2 separate regions of the Homo sapiens genome follow, and region 2 is linked to region 1. The links come from fine-mapping of genetic effects on gene expression. A gene starts in region 1. The other region holds a variant in brackets. All regions are shown on one strand. Distances are from middle to middle. Region 1 holds the start of ANKRD34A (ankyrin repeat domain 34A). Region 2 overlaps ITGA10 (integrin subunit alpha 10).

The links. PIP is the estimated chance that this variant, and not a neighbour inherited with it, causes the effect.
Region 2: its variant is fine-mapped to the expression of ANKRD34A in whole blood (TOPMed, PIP above 0.99). The same link has a PIP of 0.9 or more in blood mononuclear cells.

The regions. Positions count from the first base shown.
Region 1 is chr1:145,962,257-145,967,631 of GRCh38, reverse strand. ANKRD34A (ankyrin repeat domain 34A) reads left to right here and starts at 3,057. Exons shown (of 4, transcript NM_001039888.4): 1 at 3,057-3,448; 2 at 4,095-4,322; 3 at 4,664-5,211. POLR3GL (RNA polymerase III subunit GL) reads right to left here and starts at 2,942. Exons shown (of 8, transcript NM_032305.3): 1 at 2,864-2,942. RefSeq lists an enhancer at 3,046-3,215 and a silencer at 3,531-3,825.
Region 2 is chr1:145,902,724-145,908,093 of GRCh38, reverse strand. ITGA10 (integrin subunit alpha 10) reads left to right here. Exons shown (of 30, transcript NM_003637.5): 2 at 629-740; 3 at 944-1,053; 4 at 1,270-1,361; 5 at 1,586-1,700; 6 at 3,283-3,410; 7 at 3,894-4,042; 8 at 5,133-5,283. Among named protein-coding and RNA genes, the nearest start is that of ITGA10, 4.6 kb to the left of the region's middle. The variant T/C (reference allele first, on the strand shown) is at 2,697.

The DNA of each region.
Region 1 (5,375 bases):
CTGGGGCACGCTGATGTGTAGAATTTGCTATACATGTAATAAATAAAGCAAGAAATTAACACCCTTAAAATCTTGGAAATCCAAATTTTAAAAAATCATCTCAATAGAAAAAATGGGCAAAGGACATGAACAGGCAACTGGCAAAGAGAATGGCCATGTCTGGACATGGTGGCTCACTCCTGTAATCCAGGGTTTTGGGAGGCCGAGGTGGACAGATCACTTGAGGCCAGGAGTTCATGACCAGCCTGGGCAACATAGAGAAACCCTGTCTCTACTAAAAATACAAAAAATTAGCCAGGCACAGTGGTACACACCTTTAATTCCAGCTACTCAGGAGGCTGAGGCATGAGACTCACTTGAACACAGGAGGTGGAGGTTGCAGTGAGCTGAGATCTCACCACTGCACTCCAGCTTGGGCAACAGAGCAAGACTGTCTCAAAAAAAAAAAAAAGGAGAGAGAATGGCCAATAAAACCACTCTTCACCTATGAAAGTGACAAAGATTTAAATAATAAGCAGGCTGTCATGAGTTTTTTTTCAAATGGACACTCTCATACCTCACTGGAAAGACTATAAACATAATATTTCAAGGGGAGCAATTTGTCCAGTTAAATCAACAGCCTTTGAAATGTTTATATCCCTAATCCAGCAATCCCACTTTAAAAATATATTCCAAAGACATCAACAGATATACAGTCACAGATATAAGTAAAAGGATATTCATCAAAGAGCTATTTATGGTAGCAAAAATTCTGAAATAACTGAAACAATCTAACAATAAATGAATGGTTAAAAAATACCCATTTTATTTATTTATGTTCTTTTTATTTTATTATTTTTTTTTTGAGACAGTTTCACTCTTGTCGTCCAGGCTGGAGTGCAATGGCGCAATCTCAGCTCACCGCAACCTCCACCTCCTGGGTTCAAGTGATTCTCCTGCCTCAGCCCCCCGAGTAACTGGGATTACAGGCATGCGCCACCATGCCTGGCTAATTTTTTTTGTAGTTTTAGTAGAGATGGGGTTTCTCCATGTTGGTCAGGCTGGTCTTGTACTCCTGACTTCGTGATCCACCCGCCTTGGCCTCACAAAGTGCTGGGATTACAGGCATGAGCCATCACGCCCGGCCTCTTTTTTTTTTTTTTTTTTTTGAGACAGGTTCTTGCTCTGTCGCTTAGGCTGAAGTGCAGTGCAGTGGCAATTTTGGCTCACTGCAGCCTCGACTTCTCCAGCTCAAGCAACCCTCCACCTCAGCCTCCTGAGCAGCTGGAACTACAGGCCTGAGACACCATGCTTGGCTATTTTTTTTGTAGTTTTTGTAGAGACAGGGTTTTGTCATGTTGCCTAGACTGGTCTTGAACTCCTGGGCTAAAGTGATCTGCCTACCTCAGCCTCCCAAAGTGCTGGAATTACAGGCATGAGCCACCACGCCCAGCCAGAAATGGCTTGCTTTTAAGAATGCTACCAATTCCACTGTAAAAGGACAGATTTCCTTTTTTTTTTTTTTTTTTTTTTTTTGAGAGGGAGTTTTGCTCTTGTTGCCCAGGCTGGAGTGCAATGGTGCGATCTGAGCTCACTGCAACCTCCGCCTCCTGGGTTCTAATGATTCTCCTGCCTCAGCCTCCCCAGTAGCTGGGATTACAGGCATGCGCCAACACGCCCAGCTAATTTTTGTATTTTTAGTAGAGACAGAGTTTCTCCACGTTGGTCAGGCTGGTCTCCAACTCCCGACCTCAGGCGATCTGCCCGCCTCGGCCTCCCAAAGTGCTGGGATTACAGGCATGAGCCACCGTGCCCAGCCATATTTCCCTCTTTTACAGTGGAAGTGTGGAATGCATTTCCTTTAGCTATATATTTCTTATTTAGAATATTTGTAGGATATTGACTAAAGAACAGGTATCAAAAAATTGAATGATCTACAAGAGAGATAAGAGAGTTCCCTTACTAAAGATGTTTACATAGAAGCTGGGTAAAAATTTACTACATAGGGTTTGTAAGAAGGATGCATGGCTCTAGTAGAGGATTCCCTATGATCAGCATGATTTAGCATTGTGTCTGGCATATAGTAGGTGCTCAATAAATATTTATTGAATGAATAAATACATCATTTCTATGGGCCTTTCCAAACTTGAGAAATTGTGATCCATAAAGCCTCCCCTCACCATTCCAGTTCTCCTTGCTTTCTTCCTTCTCTAGATTGTAGAAACAATTATGAAACACTAATATTATGAACCACTAATTTAATGGCTCTTAATTACATACTGTATTGTCTTTTATTGTTCCCTAGTTATGTTAGGAGTTTAAATTCTGCCTCCCCAAAAAGAGTGCTAGTTACCAGAAATCAATTCTATTTAACTAACGTTTATTGGGCACTATATATTAACTACTAGCACCTGTCCTACAAAACCTTCTATTCTAAAAGGCATAGAAACGTTAAAGAGAGACAGTGCACTAAGTGTCCTAATAAAGGTATATACAAAACGCTATCGTAGACGGGGGAACAATTCATTTTGCAAGAAAGGCGGCCCAGGAAAACTACAGGTAGCATTTCAGCTAGTCTTCATAGATAACAGGAGTTTGTCAGGCTCTTGGGATAATATTAATAGATTAGGGGGAAGTTGATGCTATAGCAAAGACAGATACAAGAGGCTGTCTCGTTTTCTGCTTTAATGTCTCTCCCCATGCGCGATAGAAAACTGCCATTCTCTAGTATACAATCAATACAGAAATGGAAGCCCAGGGGAGAAACGGTAGGGAGCCAGAAGGGGGCTGATCCAACAACCTGACGGAAAGCGTTGTCTATTTCGCAGCCTGGCCGGGGTGAACAAGTTTGGCAAGTGTCGGACCGAACCAGGTCAAGCCTTACCTGCTGCCCCTCCCCAAAGCGGAGCCCAAGCCGCGACCAACTTGAAATGTACTGGGCTTCCTCAAGTCGGTGGCGTTCTAAGCCCGCCTCCCGGAGCTCCCTATTGGTGAGTTTTCTCGGCCAATGCAGGAGAAGCCGAGGAGGGAAGTCCGCCCTCTTGAAGCCTAGGAAGAGAAGGAGGGAGGGAGCGAGTACGCCCGGAACCGAAGCTTGCGAAGCGGGTCGCAGAGAGAGATGGGCGTTGCAGAATCAGCTGGGGTCACTTATTTCCGGTCTCACTCCAGATGAAGGAGCCACTAGCCGGCGAGAGTTCACCGAGGGAACGTGACACTCATATCTCATCGAGGGACCGTGTTGAGGGAGCCCCTACAGAGAGGCCAAAGGAGGAGAGGGCCTACGGAGAAATGAACCTCTGTAAAAGCTGCTCTTTAGGGATCAGTCTTTTTGTGACTCTAGCTTCATAGCTTGGTCTCTCCATTACTCCAGCCTTCCTTTCAATCATACACTGCCTCTCTCCAGCACCACCAATGGATACTTCTTTTCTAAAAATGTTTTTCTGTGGGTTGCTGCCGTGTCTGTGAGAAGGTGGGCAGAGGGTTCAAGAAAGGAAGGATTTGGGATCAGCGTACCAGGGTTGGGGAGACAGGGCAGGAGCCCAGCTTTTTCTGCATTTTCCACTACTTTCCACTTCCTGCGAGCTCCTTGGGAAAGCCAGCAGAGTGGAAGGAGGAGTCCTATTTTCACAGAAAGCAGAAACAAGGGAGAAAGGTTCAGAATGGAGATGAAATCTAGGAGTTAGTCAAGAAGAACATCCCAGATGTCAGAGAAAATGGCCTGTAGACTGGGAGGCTGTAGGTGTAGTGGCAAGCTCCCAGTCTTTGCCATAGGACAGAAACATAGCTGTGAAGCTTTGGAGAGCTTGCTTAACCTTATTAAGTCTGTTTCCTCATCTGTAACAAGAAGATGATAGTTCCTATCTTATAAAGTTGTGAGGATTGAAAATAGTGTATGTAAAGCACATGGCACATAGTTGACACGTGTCCAAGAAATAACTAGTAAAAATGGGTAGCTTCCTGCAAATATTTCTCTCTCTCTCCCATCCCCGGGAACATTATTTTCAGTATCTTGCATCTGGGGGGCCTCCAGCCTCTGAATTAGCTCAGGACCCTGAGTGAACTTTTTAAATCCTTAGGATTTTTCTTTTTCTCCCACTTCCCTTGGTGCCTTCCAGCTGGACACAAACTCATTCCTAAAATATGTGGATGGAAGCTATGGTAACCATGGAGACAGGGCAGGTGGCAAGGAGAGGCAGAGACAGTGTGAGAGACCAATAGACAGATAGGAAGAGAGAAGATATAAGGAATGTTTCAGACAGAGATCGTCAAGCAAGATGGAAAAAATAAGACGTCTAAGCAAGACTGAGATTAAAGAGATGCAATGTGAGAGAGTGTATTACAAGGTTCGCTCTTCTTCCTGCCCCTGTCCTATCTCCCTGCCCACAATAATACGGGGTGGAGGCACCTGGAATGTCCCTTGCCTTATCTAAAAGTGCTCCCATATCCACCTTCCTCATACTTATCTAAGAGGTCTACATAAGGGAGCTGAGGTCCAAGTTTCTCTGCGATGGGTGTTCCGTTTTTGAGAGATGGGGCGGGGGTGTATCTGTGTCTGACTCCAGGCTGGACCGTGATCTCCTTCACAATTAAACTACAGGAAGAAAGCCACATCTCTTGCCTCTCTTTGCACAGTATGGACACCGGCTGTGGATCCAAAAAGCCTTTCTACACCTTTCTTACACAGTGTGCCATGTGCCGTGTATGGCAGGTCAGGTCTGGCGCACAGGAGCGCACAAACACACCAAGTGCGGAGAATGGGGATCTGCTGAATCTCAGCGAAGAATCTGGATGATGGTCCCTGTCTGGGTCGCGGAGGAGTCCCCTAAGGAACACTTAGGTTTGTTGGGGCTGAGGGGAGGTCGGCTGAGAAAAGGAAGTCAGGATTGGAGCCTCTAGGTTTTTGAGGGTTTATGTGTGCATGAGTGGGGGAGCAGTTTGGTGCCTGACGCCCCCACCCGCAGTGACTAGGCTATAAATAGCACAGCAGAGCTCCGCCCCCCCCCCCCCCCCCCCCCCCGCCAAGCTTCTCTCCTCCCGAGCCGGCGCTGTGCCCGGGGCGCTCCGGGAGGAGGGACCAGGATCCGGCGCCGGGGCGCAGATACTGACACCAAGGGAATCCGGGTGCCCCCCCCCCCACGCCATGCGGGCCCCCAGGAAACTGGCTCCGCCACCTCGGCTGCCCCGTGGCCACGGCCCCAATCCTGGCCAGGCGGAGATTCTGCGGACATTCAGGTATCTATCTGGGCACACAGCCTGGGAGGGGAAAGAGCAAGGAGTGATGGGGAACATCGCAGGGGCAATAGAACCCCCCAATTCTCCCTCCACCCGTTTTAGGTCTCAAATGCAGGCTGCTTCCCTCCCCCCACTCAATTTTTGGGGTTGTGGCAAGCTAAAAC
Region 2 (5,370 bases), 60 kb after region 1:
GGAAGGAATGTTGTGGAAAAGAGTAGCCAGGCGCGGTGGCTCACGCCTGTAATCCCAGCACTTTGGGAGGCCGAGGCGGGCGGATCATGAGGTCAGGAGATCGAGACCATCCTGGCTAACACGGTGAAACTCCGTCTCTACTAAAAATAAGAAAAATTAGCCGGGCGAGGTGGCAGGCGCCTGTAGTGCCAGCTACACGGGAGGCTGAGGCAGGAGAATGGCGTGAACCCAGGGGGGCGGAGCCTGCAGTAAGCCGAGATCACGCCACTGCACTCCAGCCTGGGCGACAGAGAGACTCCGTCTCAAAAAAAAAAAAAAAAAAAAAAAAAAAAAAGTAACTTGACCTTTTCAGACATGTCTGTGAATGAAATTTCAGGGGTGGGAATGGAAATACAGCTGTACATCAGCATGGCAGAGGGCCACAGTTTAGGCATCTGGACACAAACACAGGAAGGGAATCATCTTTGCCTGGAGCTCTGAGTACATGACACTGAGAGAGGCCAGAAAAGCTTATGAGTGAAAAAGCAGGCAGGCAGACTGAGATTAAGACGCTTCCTCACAGCTTCTCTCGGGCTGTGCCTCTAGCCATTCACTACCTCATACTAACATTATGATCCTGACCCCACAGGTCTCTGCTCCCCCTTTAACCTGGATGAACATCACCCACGCCTATTCCCAGGGCCACCAGAAGCTGAATTTGGATACAGTGTCTTACAACATGTTGGGGGTGGACAGCGATGGTGAGGAAGAAACCGGAGTGCCAGGGGATTGGGACTGCAGTAGTGCTAACAAAGGGGAGGCAAGATAGATGGGACTCTAAACTAATCTGGTCTTTTGAAAGTGGCTGGGGCTCTAAACTTACCACCTCCATGCTCTTTCCCTTTGGCCTATGTCAAGGGTCATGTTTGCCCTGTGCTTACTTACATTCACATCCTCTTCCCAGGATGCTGGTGGGCGCCCCCTGGGATGGGCCTTCAGGCGACCGGAGGGGGGACGTTTATCGCTGCCCTGTAGGGGGGGCCCACAATGCCCCATGTGCCAAGGGCCACTTAGGTGAGAAGATGCCTGACCCTTCTCCTCCTAACCCCTGACTTTGATACTCTAGAAGCTTCAACTCCCTATACCTCAGCTTTTTCACCCCTAAAATCCGCATACTCCCTGTCCCCAATCTGATACCAATCCCTGCTCATTCTCCTCCAAAATCACATGAATTCAAGCACCCCATCTATGACCCCATGATCTCATTCTCTTCCACCTCCTTCCAACCAGGTGACTACCAACTGGGAAATTCATCTCATCCTGCTGTGAATATGCACCTGGGGATGTCTCTGTTAGAGACAGATGGTGATGGGGGATTCATGGTGAGCTAAGGAGAGGGTGGTGGCAGTGTCTCTGAAGGTCCATAAAAGAAAAAAGAGAAGTGTGGTAAGGGAAAATGGTCTGTGTGGAGGGGTCAAGGAGTTAAAAACCCTAGAAAGCAAAAGGTAGGTAATGTCAGGGAGTAGTCTTCATGCCTCCTTCAACTGGGAGCATGTTCTGAGGGTGCCCTCCCAAGCCTGGGAGTAACTATTTCCCCCATCCCCAGGCCTGTGCCCCTCTCTGGTCTCGTGCTTGTGGCAGCTCTGTCTTCAGTTCTGGGATATGTGCCCGTGTGGATGCTTCATTCCAGCCTCAGGGAAGCCTGGCACCCACTGCCCAACGTGAGCCAGAGGAAGGCTGAGTACTTGGTTCCCAGAAGGAGATACTGGGTGGGAAAAAGATGGGGCAAAGCGGTATGATGCCTGGCAAAGGGCCTGCATGGCTATCCTCATTGCTACCTAATGTGCTTGCAAAAGCTCCATGTTTCCTAACAGATTCAGACTCCTGGCCAGGTGTGGTGGCCCACACCTGTAATTCTAGCACTTTGGGAGGCCAAGGTGGGCAGATCACTTGAGGTCAGGAGTTCAAGACCAGCCTGGCCAACATGGTGAAACTCCATCTCTACTAAAAAAAAAAAATACAAAAATTAGCTGGGTGCGCTAGTGCATGCCTGTAATCTCATCTACTCGGGAGGCTAAGACAGGAGACTCTCACTTCAACCCAGGAGGTGGAGGTTGCGGTGAGCCAAGATTGTGCCTCTGCACTCTAGCGTGGGTGACAGAGTAAGCGAGACTCCATCTCAAAAATAATAATAATAATAATTCAGACTCCTTATCAGGAGTCCATGATCTGGCCTGGCACAGTAACTCATGCCTGTAATCCCAACATTTTGGGAGGCCAACGCAGGAGGATTGCTTGAGGTCTGGAGGTTTGAGACCAGCCTGGGCAACATAGAGAGACCCCATCTCTACAAAAATAAAAAATAAAAAAATTAGCTGGGTATGGTGGTGCATGCCTGTGGTCCCAGCTACTCAGGAGGCCAAGGTGGGAGGATCACTTGAGCCCAGGTGGTCCAGGCTGCAGTGAGCCATGATTATGCCACTACACTCCAGCCTGGGCGACAGAGTGAGACTCTGTCTCAAAAACAAACAAAATGGGCCAGGCGTGGTGGCTCACGCCTGTAATCCCAGCACTTTGGGAGGCCGAGGCCAGTGGATCACGAGGTCAGGAGATCGAGACCATCCTGGCTAACAGAGTAAAACCCTGTCTCTGCTAAAAACACAAAAAATTAGCCGGGTGTCGTGGCGGGCGCCTGTAGTCCCAGCTACTCGGGAGGC[T/C]GAGGCAGGAGAATGGCGTGAACCCAGGAGGCAGAGCTTGCAGTGAGCCGAGATTGCGCCACTGCACTCCAGCCTGGGCAATAGAGCGAGACTCTGTCTCAAAAAAAAAAAAATGTTCTCTACCCACATGCCTTTCCTAATATTCTCTTCTCCTTAAACATTTTCAGTCTTCATAGTTGCTACCATGTTTCATTCCTCACCATCAGAACCACTCTGCTTTTGTTCCCCCACCATACAGTCATTGCTATGTTCCTACATAGCATTTAATTCCTTCTTGTTTTTTAGAACATTGTATATATAAATTATATCTATGTATATAAATGTGTAGGTGTGTGTGTTTATATACCTATATATACATATATACATATATATACATTTATATGTATACTTACATACACACAATTACTAAAGATTACTAAAGGAATATTTTATTAATTTCTACACTTACACAGAGCCTGGCACAGTACCTTCTTTGCATGTAAGAAGTGCCTTATAAATGTCTAAATTGAATGTGTCCTCCTGTGACCTCTTTCCCTTGTTGCCCCCAGCTCAGTGTCCTCTACCTCAGTGTTCTCCTTCCTTCTAGGCTGCCCAACATACATGGATGTTGTCATTGTCTTGGATGGCTCCAACAGCATCTACCCCTGGTCTGAAGTTCAGACCTTCCTACGAAGACTGGTAGGGAAACTGTTTATTGACCCAGAACAGATACAGGTAAGAGAAGGCAATATGAGCTGGGCACAGTTGCTTGTGGCACCTACTTAAGAGGTGGAGGTGGGAGGATCCCCTGAGGCCAGGAGTTCAAGACTAGCCTGGGCAATACAGTGAGACCTCATCTCTAAAAATATGAAAGAAAAAAAAAATAGCCAGGCATGGTGGCATGCGCCTACAGTCCCAGCTACTCAGGAGGCTGAGGCAAGAGATCAGTTGAGCCCAGGAGTTTGAGGCTGTAGTGAGCTTTGATCACACAACTGCACTCCAGCCTGGGTGAAAGAGTGAGACCTCATTTCTTAGAGAGAGAGAGAAAGGCAATATGGATGGGCTTGGAAGGGGAGAGACAGAGAGAGAGGGGATAAATGTAGGTGTTGTCTTCAGTAGTATCCAGGTGTTCATCTCTCCTCTCTTATATACTTTCTTCTTCCTCCTCTCCCCCCATCTCACATACATACATTTCATTTGAATGCGCTTTATTCCCAGGTGGGACTGGTACAGTATGGGGAGAGCCCTGTACATGAGTGGTCCCTGGGAGATTTCCGAACGAAGGAAGAAGTGGTGAGAGCAGCAAAGAACCTCAGTCGGCGGGAGGGACGAGAAACAAAGACTGCCCAAGCAATAATGGTGGCCTGGTGAGGCATTGGGAAGACAGGTGTGGGAGGCTAGAGCAATGAAGGCTTAGAAGAGTTAGGGCGGGGCCAGGCATGGTGGCTCACGCCTGTAATCCCAGCACTTTGGGAGGCAAGGCAGGCGGATCACCTGAGGTCAGGAGTTCGAGACCAGCCTGACCAACATGGAGAAACCCCATCTCTACTAAAAATACAAAATTAGCCAGGCATGGTGGCGCATGCCTGTTCAGAGGCATGCTACTTCGGAGGCTGAGGCAGGAGAATCACTTAATCCCGGGAGGTGGAGGTTGCAGTGAGTCGAGATCACAACATTGCACTCCAGCCTGGGCAACGAGAGCAAAACTCCATCTAAAATAAAATAAAATAAAATGAAATGAAAATCTTTCCCTTAAAAAAAAAAAAAGAAGAAGAAGAAGAGTTAGGGCAGGTTTGGAGTGCAGTGTGTATATCCCAAGATGTCTTGCATACTTTCTTTGTATGTACACTAATGGTACAAAGAGGAAGGCTAAGTGGGCTGTCATTGTACTCCCTCTCACTGCATTTCTACAAAGTATCTATGTCTGTGTCTCTCCATATTTCACAGACAGAAGTCTCTTTCTATCCCTCCACTCCAACAATGATCCTGGCCCACAGGTTCTCCACTACTGATGTCCTAGCCCACGTTCCAAACATGATCCAAAACTCATCTCTAGGGGCACGGTGGTAAAATTGAAACAAAACAAAACAACTCATCTCTGGGAGGAGTCCCTGCCCAGATCATTCTTTTCCGTTCTATATTTCATCGATATTTCCCCTCCCAAGTGCAATATTTGTTGAATGAATCTGAGTGTATGAACGTTGTACTTATTTGGACTGATAAGCTACTCTGTATGTTCTATGACCTTCAAACATTTGAGCTCTCACTCCATGCCATCTCCATGTTAAATACTCAGGAAATGGCCTAAAAGGCAAGATGCCTGACCTCAGGGAAGTGCTGATGTTAAATCCTGTGTGTGTGTGTGTGTGTGTGTGTGTGTGTGTGTGTGTGTGTATGTGTGTGTGTGTGTGTGTGTCTGCATACATCTGATCTCACCTCACTCCTTTCTCTTCTCAGCACAGAAGGGTTCAGTCAGTCCCATGGGGGCCGACCCGAGGCTGCCAGGCTACTGGTGGTTGTCACTGATGGAGAGTCCCATGATGGAGAGGAGCTTCCTGCAGCACTAAAGGCCTGTGAGGCTGGAAGAGTGACACGCTATGGGATTGCAGTGAGAATTCACCCTGGATCTGGAAGAGTTGGGGAGTGGCAGGGGGGCAGTGTCTTGTGAACTGTCCAAGGACTGGGAACTTGAGGA